2 separate regions of the Homo sapiens genome follow, and region 1 is linked to region 2. The links come from fine-mapping of genetic effects on gene expression. A gene starts in region 2. The other region holds a variant in brackets. All regions are shown on one strand. Distances are from middle to middle.

Evidence for each region. PIP is the estimated chance that this variant, and not a neighbour inherited with it, causes the effect.
Region 1: its variant is the best candidate, but not a certain one, in a credible set for the expression of ENTPD6 in whole blood (TOPMed, PIP 0.86).

The regions. Positions count from the first base shown.
Region 1 is chr20:25,343,035-25,348,275 of GRCh38, forward strand. All of the region lies in intron 1 of ABHD12 (abhydrolase domain containing 12, lysophospholipase), which reads right to left. Among named protein-coding and RNA genes, the nearest start is that of ABHD12, 45 kb to the right of the region's middle. The variant G/A (reference allele first, on the strand shown) is at 2,201.
Region 2 is chr20:25,192,701-25,197,941 of GRCh38, forward strand. ENTPD6 (ectonucleoside triphosphate diphosphohydrolase 6) reads left to right here and starts at 3,012. Exons shown (of 15, transcript NM_001247.5): 1 at 3,012-3,167. It overlaps LOC101926889 (a long non-coding RNA gene), which reads right to left and starts at 4,192. Exons shown (of 6, transcript NR_109994.1): 1 at 3,923-4,192. RefSeq lists enhancers at 2,468-2,707, 3,558-3,627, 4,008-4,157, 4,688-4,737 and a silencer at 2,848-3,267.

The sequences.
Region 1 (5,241 bases), 150 kb after region 2:
TCCACCTACCTTGGCCTCCCAAAGTGCTGGGATTACAGGCATGAGCCACCACACCTGGCCTAAAGTATTTTTAAATTAAGGTATGTACACTGTTGTCTTAGACAAAACCTGCCAAAACTCACGTAAGAAATAGACAATCTGAACATGCCTGTTTCTATTAAATACATTCAATCAATAATTAACAACCTTCCAAAACAGAAATCACTGGGCCCAGATGGGTTCACTGGGGAATTCTACCAAACATTTAAGGAAGAAATTACACCAATTATCCGCAATCTCTTCCAAAAGATAGAAACAATCTCTTTTTAACTTATCCTATAAGCTCAGCATTACCCTAAATCAGACAAAGACATTACAAAAAAGAAGACTAAGCTGAGCCTAGTGGTATGTGCCTGTGATCACAGCTTCTTGGGAGGCTGAGGCAGCAGGATGGCTCCAGCCTAGGAGTTCAAGGCCAGCCTGGGCAACATCTTCAAAAAAAAGAATGAGGCCAGGCGTGGTGGCTCACGCCTGTAATTCCAGCACTTTGGGAGGCCAAGACGGGTGGATGACCTAAGGTCAGGAGTTCAAGACCACCTGGCCAACATGGGGAAATCCTGTCTCTACTGAAAATACAGCAATTAGCTGGGTGTGGTGGCAGGCATCTGTAATCCCAGCTACTTGGGAAGCTGAAGCAGGAGAACCTGGGAGGCGGAGGTTGCAGTGAGCTGAGATCGCACCACTGCACTCCAGCCTGAGCAACAAAGGAAGACTCTGTGTCAAAAAATAAAATTAATTAAAAAATAAAGAAAACTAAAGACCCATATTCTCATGAACATAAATGCAAAAATCCTCTAAAAAATATTAGCAAAGCAAATCCAACAATGTATAAAAAGAATTATACACTACGGCCAAGTGGGATTTGTCCCAGGTATGCAAGGCTAGTTCAACATATGAAAATCAATTAATGTAATACATCACATCAACAGGCTAAAAAAGAAAAATCACATGATCATATAAATAGATGCACAAAAAGCATGTGACAAAATCAACAACCATTCATGATTAAAAAGCCTCAGCACACTAGGAATAAAGGGGAACTTCCTCAACTTGATAATATCTACAAAAAACAGTTAACATCTTACTTAATGATGAAAAGCTTGAAGCTTTCCTGCTAAGATTAGGAACAAAGCAAGATTACACAATAAGATAAGAAAAGGAGATAACAGGTATAGAGACCCGGGAAGGAAAAATAAAACTTTGCAGATCACATGACTGTCTATGTATGTAGAAGATCTAAAACTTGGAACTAATTAGTGATTATAGCAAGGTTCCAGGATACGAGGTTAATATACATAAGCCAATAGTTTTCATATATACCAGCAATGTGAATCCAAAACATATTGCCATTTACATTAGCAACCCCCAAAATGAACTACTTAGATACAAATCTAACAAAATATGTACAAGATCTAATGAGGAAAACGATAAACTCTGATGAAACGTATAAAGGAAGAACTAAATAGATATTCCATCTTCATGGACAGGAAGGCCCAATATTGTCAATATGTCAGTTCTTCCCAACTTTATAGATTCAATATAATCCCAATCAGATCCCAGCAAGTTATTTCCCGGATATTGACAAACTGATCCTAAAGTTTATATGGAAAGGCAAAAGACTCAGGATAGACAGCATTAAAGGAGAAGAACAAACTTGGAGGACTGACACAAGCTGGCTTGAATACTTACAATAAAGCCACAGTAATCAAGACAGTGGTGTACTGTCAAAAATACCAACAGACCAAAGAGCCTAGAAATAGACCCACATAACTATAGTCGACTCATCTGTGACAAAGGAGCAAGGGCAATACAATGGAGCAAAGATGATCTTTTCCACAAATGGTGCTGTAACAACTGTACATTCGTATGGAAAAAAATGAAAGTAGACCTGATACCCTTCACAAAAATAAAACTCAAAATGAGTCATAGACCTAAATGTAAAAACAGAAAACTATAAAACTCCTAGGAGATAACAGAGAAAAAAATTTAGGTGAACTTGGGTATGACGAAGACTTTTTTTTTTTTTTCTGGAGATGGAGTCTCGCTCTGTCACCCAGGCTGAAGTGCAGTGGTGCCATCTCAGCTCACTGCAACCTTTGCCTCCCAGGTTCAAGCTATTCTCCTGCCTCAGCCTCCTGAGCAGCTGAGACTACAGGTGAGC[G/A]CCACCACATCCAGCTGATTTTTTGTATTTTTAGTAGAGACGGGGTTTCACCGTGTTAGCTAGGATGGTCTTGATCTCCTGATCTCATGATCCGCCCACCTCAGCCTCCCAAAGTGCTGGGATTACAGGCTTGAGCCACCGCGCCTGGCCGATGAAGACTTCTTAGATACAAAACCACCAAGGTATGATCCATGAAAGAAATATTAACAAGCTAGGTTTCATTAAAATTGAAATCTTCTGCTCTGTAAAAGACAATGTCAACAGAATGAGAAGATAAGCCACAGACTCGGAAAAACATATTAACAAAAGTATATCTGATGAAAGACAGTTATACAAAATATACAAAGAACTCTTAAAACTTGATAAGAAAATAAATAACTGGATTTTAAAAGGAGCAAAGGACCTGAACAGACACCTCTCCAAAGAAGATACACAGATGGCAAGTAAGCATATGAAAAGGTGTTCACATATGTAATCAGAGAAAGGCAAATTAAAACAATATACCACTACACACTATTAGAATGGCCAAAATGCAAAACACTGATAACACTAAATGCTAGGAGAATGTGGAGCAACAGGAATTCTCATTCATTCCCAGTGGGAATGCAAACATGGTACACAGACACTTGGGAAGACAGTTTGGCAACTCCTCACAAAACTACACATATTCTTACTATATGATCCAGCAGTCAGGCTCCTTGGTACTTACTCAAATAAATGAAAAATATATGTCCACACAAAAACTTGTAAACAGACATTTACAGCAGCTTTATTAATAACTGCCAAGAGTCTGGCAGTTATTAATAAATATAAGATAACCAAGGTAAGATGTCCTTTGATAGGTGAGTGAATAAATAAACTGGTACATCCGGACAATGGAATATTATTCAGTGCTAAACAGAAATCAGCAATCAAGCCATGAAAAGAACATGGCAGAAACTTAATATTATTTAGTGAAGCTTATTACTAAGTGAAAGAAGCTCATCTCAAAAGGCTACATACTATATGACTCCAACTATATGACATTCTGTAAAAGGTCAAACTATGGAGATGGCAAAAAGATTAGTGGTCATCCAGGGATGGGGTAGGGAGGGATGATCAGGAAGAACACAGATTTCTAGGGCAGTGAAACTATTGTGTATGATACTACAATGGTAAATAAGTATTATACATTTGTCGAAATCTCATAAAATGCACAACATCAAGAGTGAACCCTACTTAATGCAAACTATGGATTTGGGGTGATGATGTGTCAATGCAGGTTCACTGATTCTAGCAAATATGCCATTGCAGTGCAGGATGTGGATAGTGTGGCATACCATGTGTGGTAGGGGCGGGGCAGGAGTGTATGGGAAATTCTGTACTTTCCACTCAATTCTGCTGCAGACCTAAAACTGCTCTAAAAAATAAAGTTTATTTATTTATTTTGAGACGGAGCCTTGCTCTGTCGCCCAGGCTAGAGTGCAGTGGCGTGATCTCGGCTCACTGTAAGCTCTGCCTCCTGGGTTCACACCATTCTCCTGCCCTCAGCCTCCCGAGCAGCTGGGACTACAGGCGCCTGCCACCAAGCCCAGCTAATTTTTTGTGTTTTTAGTAGAGACAAGTTTCACTATGTTAGCCAGGATGGTCTCGATCTCCTGACCTTGTGATCCACCCGCCTCGGCCTCCCAAAGTGCTGGGATTACAGGTGTAAGCCACTGCGCCCGGCCAAGTTTATTAATTTTTTAAAAAGTCAACAACAATAAAATGTTACTCATAGCTGTCAAGTGTCTTTGGACTCCACAGAAAACCTGAAGCACAGGATGAGAGATGAGGGTGGTACGAGAATGGCAGTTAGTGTTCAGAGACTTGAGATGGAAACAAAAGTAAATATTACACGAAGAAATCCACAGAACCAGAAAGAGAAAACTACCTAATTTTGAAACCTTCACAGCTTACATATTAGAAGTTTTATATCATTATTTTTACCAGACAGACATATATTCCTGTAAATAATTAAGTTTTGCAAGAGTCTCATAAGGGACAGGAGTTTGTCATCTGGAAATACTGCCAGCATGCTGTTTTCAGCAGGGTACTCCCCAGCACCCTTCTCTCTCCTGGACTGCAACCATTATCTGTCTTTAAAACTGTACCAGGATGTGTGATTGGGGTATGCTTCTTTCTTTCTCTCTCATCCTGTGAGTTTTTTCTTCATTTAATTATGAACTACTAACTATATTATTTTAATACCTAAGAGTATAGTTCCCATAATAAAATTTATTTTTTCTAGATTCCATTTCAGTCAGTGTTATGGTCAAGGATAAATCTTGGCCAGGTGTGGTGGTTCACACCTGTAATCCCAGCACTTTGAGTGGCCAAGGCAGCAGGACGCCTTGAGCACCTTGAGTTTGAAACTGGCCTGGGCAAAACAGGGAGACTCTGTCTCTATAAAAAAAAAAATTAAAAATTAGCTGGGCACAGTGTGCATGCCTGTGGTCCCAGCTACTTAGGAGGCTAAGATTGGAGGATCACTTGAGCCCAGAAGGAAAGATAAATCTCTTCAGCAAGTCTGAAAATCTCTTGGAAAGGCAAATTCTGTAAGTCTATATTATACTTGAAAGGCATATCAGAAAAATAAAAATGTTTTCATGTTTTTAAAAAAAGTTCACATATGATGTTGGCTGTGGGTTTAGAAAAAAAAAAAAAAAGGAAAAAAGCCTGGGCGCAGGGTCTCACGCCTGGAATCCCAGCACTTTGGGAGGCCTAGGTGGGCAGATCACGAGGTCAGGAGATCAAGATCATCCTGGCCAACGTGGTGAAAACCCGTCTCTATCAAAAATACAAAAATTAGCTGGGCGTGGTGGCACACGCCTGTAGTCCCAGCTACTCGGGAGGCTGAGGCAGGAGAATCGCTTGAATCTGGGAGGCAGAGGTTGCAGTAAGCCGAGATGGCGCCACTGCACTCCAGCATGGGCAACAGAGCAAGACTCTGTCTCAAAAAAAAAAAGGAAAAAAGTTCACAGATAAAAACAACAAATACAAGAGCTAGTTCTTCGAGAAAA
Region 2 (5,241 bases):
CCGGGCGCGATGGCTCACACCTGTAATCCCAGCACTTTGGGAGGCCAGGGTGGGCAGATCACCTGAGGTCAGTAGTTCAAGACCAGCCTGGCCAACATGGTGAAACCCTGTCTCTACTAAAAATATAAAAATTAGCCGGGCGTGGTGGCAGGTGCCTGTAATCCCAGCTACTCAGGAGGCTGAGGCAGGATAATTGCTTGAACCCGGGAGGCAGAGGTTGCAGCGAGCCGAGATCACACCATTGCACTCCAGCCTGGGGGACAAGAGCAAGACTTCATCTCAAAAAAAAAAAAAAAAAAAAATTATGGCTTAGGAGTCATGCAGCCCGAAGCCACAAGATTCCTAACCTCCATAATTGCTCCAATAGATAATATTACTATTATATAACATAAGATTGGTGTTCAAGGTATTTTTCAGACCCCACATTGTGATGGACTAGCCACCCAGACTGGTAAACTGGCTATCTCGTCTTGTGACCCCAACCCAGGAACTAACCCAGAGCAAGACGAAAGCTTCATCTCTTCAGGATTTCATCCCTAACCCAACCAATCAGCACTCACCATTCCCTAGCCCCCTGACTGCTAAACTATCTTTTAAAAACCCTAGCCTCCAGACTGGCACAATCCCAGCACTTTGGGAGGCCAAGGAGGGCAAATCACTTGAGAGCAGGAGTTCGAGACCAGCCTGGCCAACACGGTGAAACCCCGTCTCTACTAAAAATACAAATAATTAGCTGGGCATGGTGGTGTGCGCTTGTAATCCCAGCTACTTGTAAGGCTGAGGCATGAGAATCGCTTGAACAGGAGGTGGAGGTTGCAGTAAGCCTAGACTGCACCACTGCACTCCAGCCTGGACAACAAAGCAAGACACTGTCTCAAAAACAAACCCCCCCCAAAAAATTCCTTAGACTCCGAATTTGAGGAGAGGCTGATTTGAGGAGTAATAAGCCTCTGCTCTCCTGGTTAGCCAGCTCTATGTGTATCGAACTCTTTATTGCAATTCCCATCTTGAAAAATTGGCTCTATCTGGGCGACAGGCAAGAAGAAGCTGTTGGGTGGTTACAGTGTGATGAGTGCTATGAAGGAAATAACATAAAAGGTGACAGAGAATAACTAGAGGAGGCCATTCTAGATAAAATGGTCTGAGGAGGTGACATTTGAGCTGAGTATTAAACATTGAGAAACAATCTACGAAGGGAAGATGTGGTGCAAGACCTTTCCAAGCAGTGTATAATACACACAAAAGCCCATGCCAGCAAAAAGATTTTACTTTCACAAATTCTAGAAACTCTAAGAGTAAAAAGTGGTGAAAAGAAAGGAAGTGATAACACATGTTGCCAAGTGCAGCAGGCAGAAACAGGGCCATCACCACTTCACGACAGGATCTCAAAATACTAGGAAGTGTAAATTAAAACCATGAGATATAGTTTTGTCATTATTGGATTGGGAAAGATCCAAAAGTTTGGAAAGACCCCACTGGTGAAGATGTGTGGAAACCCACAGTCTTACACATTATTTGCCAGAGTGTAAATTAGTACAGTGTCTAAGGGGGGCAATTTAGCCACGTTTGGCTAATATATTATTTTAAAGGACATATCCCACCATAGCCAATTCCACCTCTAAGAATATTTCTGACAGATATACCCACATGCATGCACAAAGACAATCCACGGGATCCAGTCACATTATTCCTAACCCAAAGCAACTGGGAAACACTTCAAGGTCCATCAGTGAAGGCCCGCATAGGCTAACCTCTGTAATAACCAAATCTCAGTGGCAGTGTCCAACCAGGTGCTTGTGGGCGACCTTCCAACAGGCACCGCATTGCCCGGCTGCCAGGCCGGGCCTGTGTACTGTCCCCGCATCCCATACAGCTAGCACTTATTCACCCTCAAAAGCGTCCCATCCTGAAAATAAACTCTTGCCCACTTGGTGCTTCAGGAACCTGGGCTTCTTCCACTAATAGCTCTCCCAGATGCCCCAGTGCGCAGGTGGGGCCGTCCTCTAGGACCAGGCCTGGCTGGGGCGCACCCACACCTCCTTGGCCAGACGCCATGGGCCGGGAAGGGGCTCTGGCCCTTGCGGGAATGAGGGCGCCTAGCATAGGTGTGCAAGTGGGCAGCCCCCACCGTGGGGTCCTTAAGTAAGCTGGAGCCTGTGAGCCAGGACAGTCAGGAGTTGCAACCTTGGTGATTTCTAGGAAGACAGAAAATGGGGTCAAGGGCCGGGTGTGGTGGCTTATGCCTATAGACCCAGCACTTTGGGAGGCCGAGGCAGGCGGATCACCTTAGGTCAGGAGTTCGAGACCAGCCTGACCAACAGGGCGAAACCTCGTCACTACTAAAGGTACAAAAATTAGCCAGGCGTGGTGGCGCACACCTGTAATCCCAGCTACTCAGGAAGCTGAGGCAACAGAATCGCTTGAACCCGGGAGGCAGAGGTTGCAGTGAGCTGAGACCACATCACTGCACTCCAGCCTGGGTGAGAACCTGTTAAAAAAAAAAATAAGAAAATGGGGTCAAGAAACGGTGGGAGGAGGGCAGATTTCATGAACCTGCCTGCTATGATGTGGCTGCATTTCCATCATGCATTGTCCTAAAAAAAGAAAAAGAAAAAAATAAAATGTAGACGTGGAGGGATGGGGGAAATTGCACAGGCCGGTCCAGGCTGTGAGGCTGCCCCCTACCAGGGACGACGAGGGCCAGCTCCGCCGCGCCGTAAGGAAACTGGCCAAGGGAACCCCTTGAATCTGGCGAGGGCCCGCCATGAGACGCTCGGGGAACCAGACTGCCGAGCCCCCCTCTCTGGGCCGACGCCAGCCCGGCTGTGGACTGGAGAAAACCGCAAGGCCACCTGCAGAAAGAAAAGAAGGCCATCGCGCCTACGCAGCTGAGCACCCATACTCCGCCCGCGCCTGCGCAACTGGGTCCCCCGACCCCCACCTCCTCTCCCGCCTGCGCATGCGCGGCTGGGTGCGCCCCCCCGCCCAGCCTGTGACGCCACGTGCATGGGGCGGAGCCCAGGCCCTAGGGAATCGTGGGGTCGTATCCCGCGGGTGGAGGCCGGGGTGGCGCCGGCCGGGGCGGGGGAGCCCAAAAGACCGGCTGCCGCCTGCTCCCCGGAAAAGGGCACTCGTCTCCGTGGGTGTGGCGGAGCGCGCGGTGCATGGTAAGCGGCGGGCCGGGGCGCTGGCGGGGGCGGCCGGGGATCACCGACTGTAGGCGGGCCTCCCCCACGCGGGCGCGCTGCGCTCCGGAGGACGGCCTCGGGGTCACTCGCACCCCGGGTCCCACCTCCTGCTGCCTTCCTGTCCAGGCTCCATTAGGGCTCCCTGGATGTCTGGGCTCCGCTGACCGGTGGGGGGCAAGTCCAGTGTTTTGGGCCACAGGGCGGGCCAAATAGCAGGGGCCTGTAGCCCCAGGGGGCCCCAGCCCTGCTGCGTTCATTCATTCAGCCCGCTTTTGCGGACCCGCCCCCAGTCTGCGTCAGGGACAGACCCCTCCGCCCTGGATGAGCCCGGCGGGGAAGCTTCGCGTAGCAGTTTCTGGGAAACAGGTAGGATCAGGCCGCTCGGACAGGACTGAGGGTGTAAGGACGATTCACCCTGGCATTGGGGTGGTGTCCCGAGGAGCTCATAGGTGGTCAGGGCGGTTCTGCCCGAGCTGACCTGTGAGCCGCGAATGCCCTGGACCGAGGGAGGGAGAGCCCCCTAGGTGGACAGACTAGACTCCTTCAGTGGAAAACATTCAACAGCCAGGAGAGCGTGGAAGAGGAAGGAGAGATGGGAGGGCCCAGGGGAGCGTGGAAGGGAGGGTGTTTTTATTATAAGTGCACCTGTAAGTGCAAAGTGCAAAGGAAGCAGCCGCCGGGAAGTGCCTGGGCAGCTCTGGGTGTCCCTCCAGGCACCTGTATTCCAGCCTTACCTGCGCGAAGCCACACATCCCACGTCACACAGGATACGGGGAAGTCAGCCATAGCCTGCAGGCGGGGAATCTGAAACCTCGCGCAGGAGTTCCTTGGGAGAGGTGGATTACAAGGACTCTTCCTCCCACCCGCTGTGCAAGAGCCATGGGCGGCCGGTAGTCATTTTTGAAGGACCTGGCAAGCACTGTACAAATCTCAAAATTGCTTTTTGTCCCCCTCCCCTTGCCTTGGAGAGAGTGGCTGGCTAGTGTGTGTGTCGTCTGCCTCCTGAAGGTTCGGGTAAAGGACCAGGGAGGTGGGCAGCCCTTTGTGTCAGGAGATCTGGAAGCGCCTCCCCTCCCACCGCCTCCTGTGTAAAGGAAACAGCAGGTGGTGTTGACGGGCGGTTCACGCACCGGTTTTTGCCAAGGAGAGAAAAACCTACTGAAACCCACCAGGAGGATGAGTGGAAGTTTCTAATGTGCTTCATTTTTTGATACAGCGTGCATGGCAGGCATTTGCATTCATGACCCTTCCGTGTACTTGAACTGAAAACCTGAAGAAACTGGCCAACAGATTAGGCAGCCATCAATCCACATCAGATGGCCCCTGTATTTCCAAGAGGTGACCTGCCATCCCCATCTAGAAAGCCAACCAGGGGACAGGGTAGCTCCTACCACCAACAACACTGCTCTACCCTCAGATTCTCTTCTCTGACTCCTGCCTCCACCTGCTGGAGGGTGGCCTCAGCAGGAGCCACACCTCTCTGTTTGCCTGTGTGCACCCTACTTCCTACCCCTGCCTTCCCTCAGTCCCCACCCGCTACCTTCCTTACAGCCTCATCCCACCCTGTCTCTCCTTTAAAGAACAGACTGAGATGGCATTGTTTTCCTCAAAGAGTCTGTCAGGGAGAACCTGATCAACACATTCACGCTGTGGTGTTAGTGGTTCCCACAGAAACCCCATTTCCTCTCCGGCAGGTGTCTCAGCCATGGGCAAACACCTTAACCTAGTGGAATGAAATTGCTGTTTAGATCTGGGACACAGGTACATGGAGATGACCTGTTCCTTGGGGAGAGGGGATGGTGAACATGATTATAAGAACTCTTCTTCCCACCCTTGTGCAAGAGCAAGGCTGTTCCTGGTTCTGTGCTCTCTCAGTACTGTGTTCTAGTTGGACTCTTGCTTTTGTCTTCCTGAACTTGGTGTGTAACTTCAGTAATTATGTCTATGTAAGGTATGTCTATGTATGTGAGTGTTTTTTGGATCTCTAAAGTCGTGATAAAGCACGTTCAATTTGGGGACTGAAGCCAGGGACTCTTGTGTGCTCCACCACACA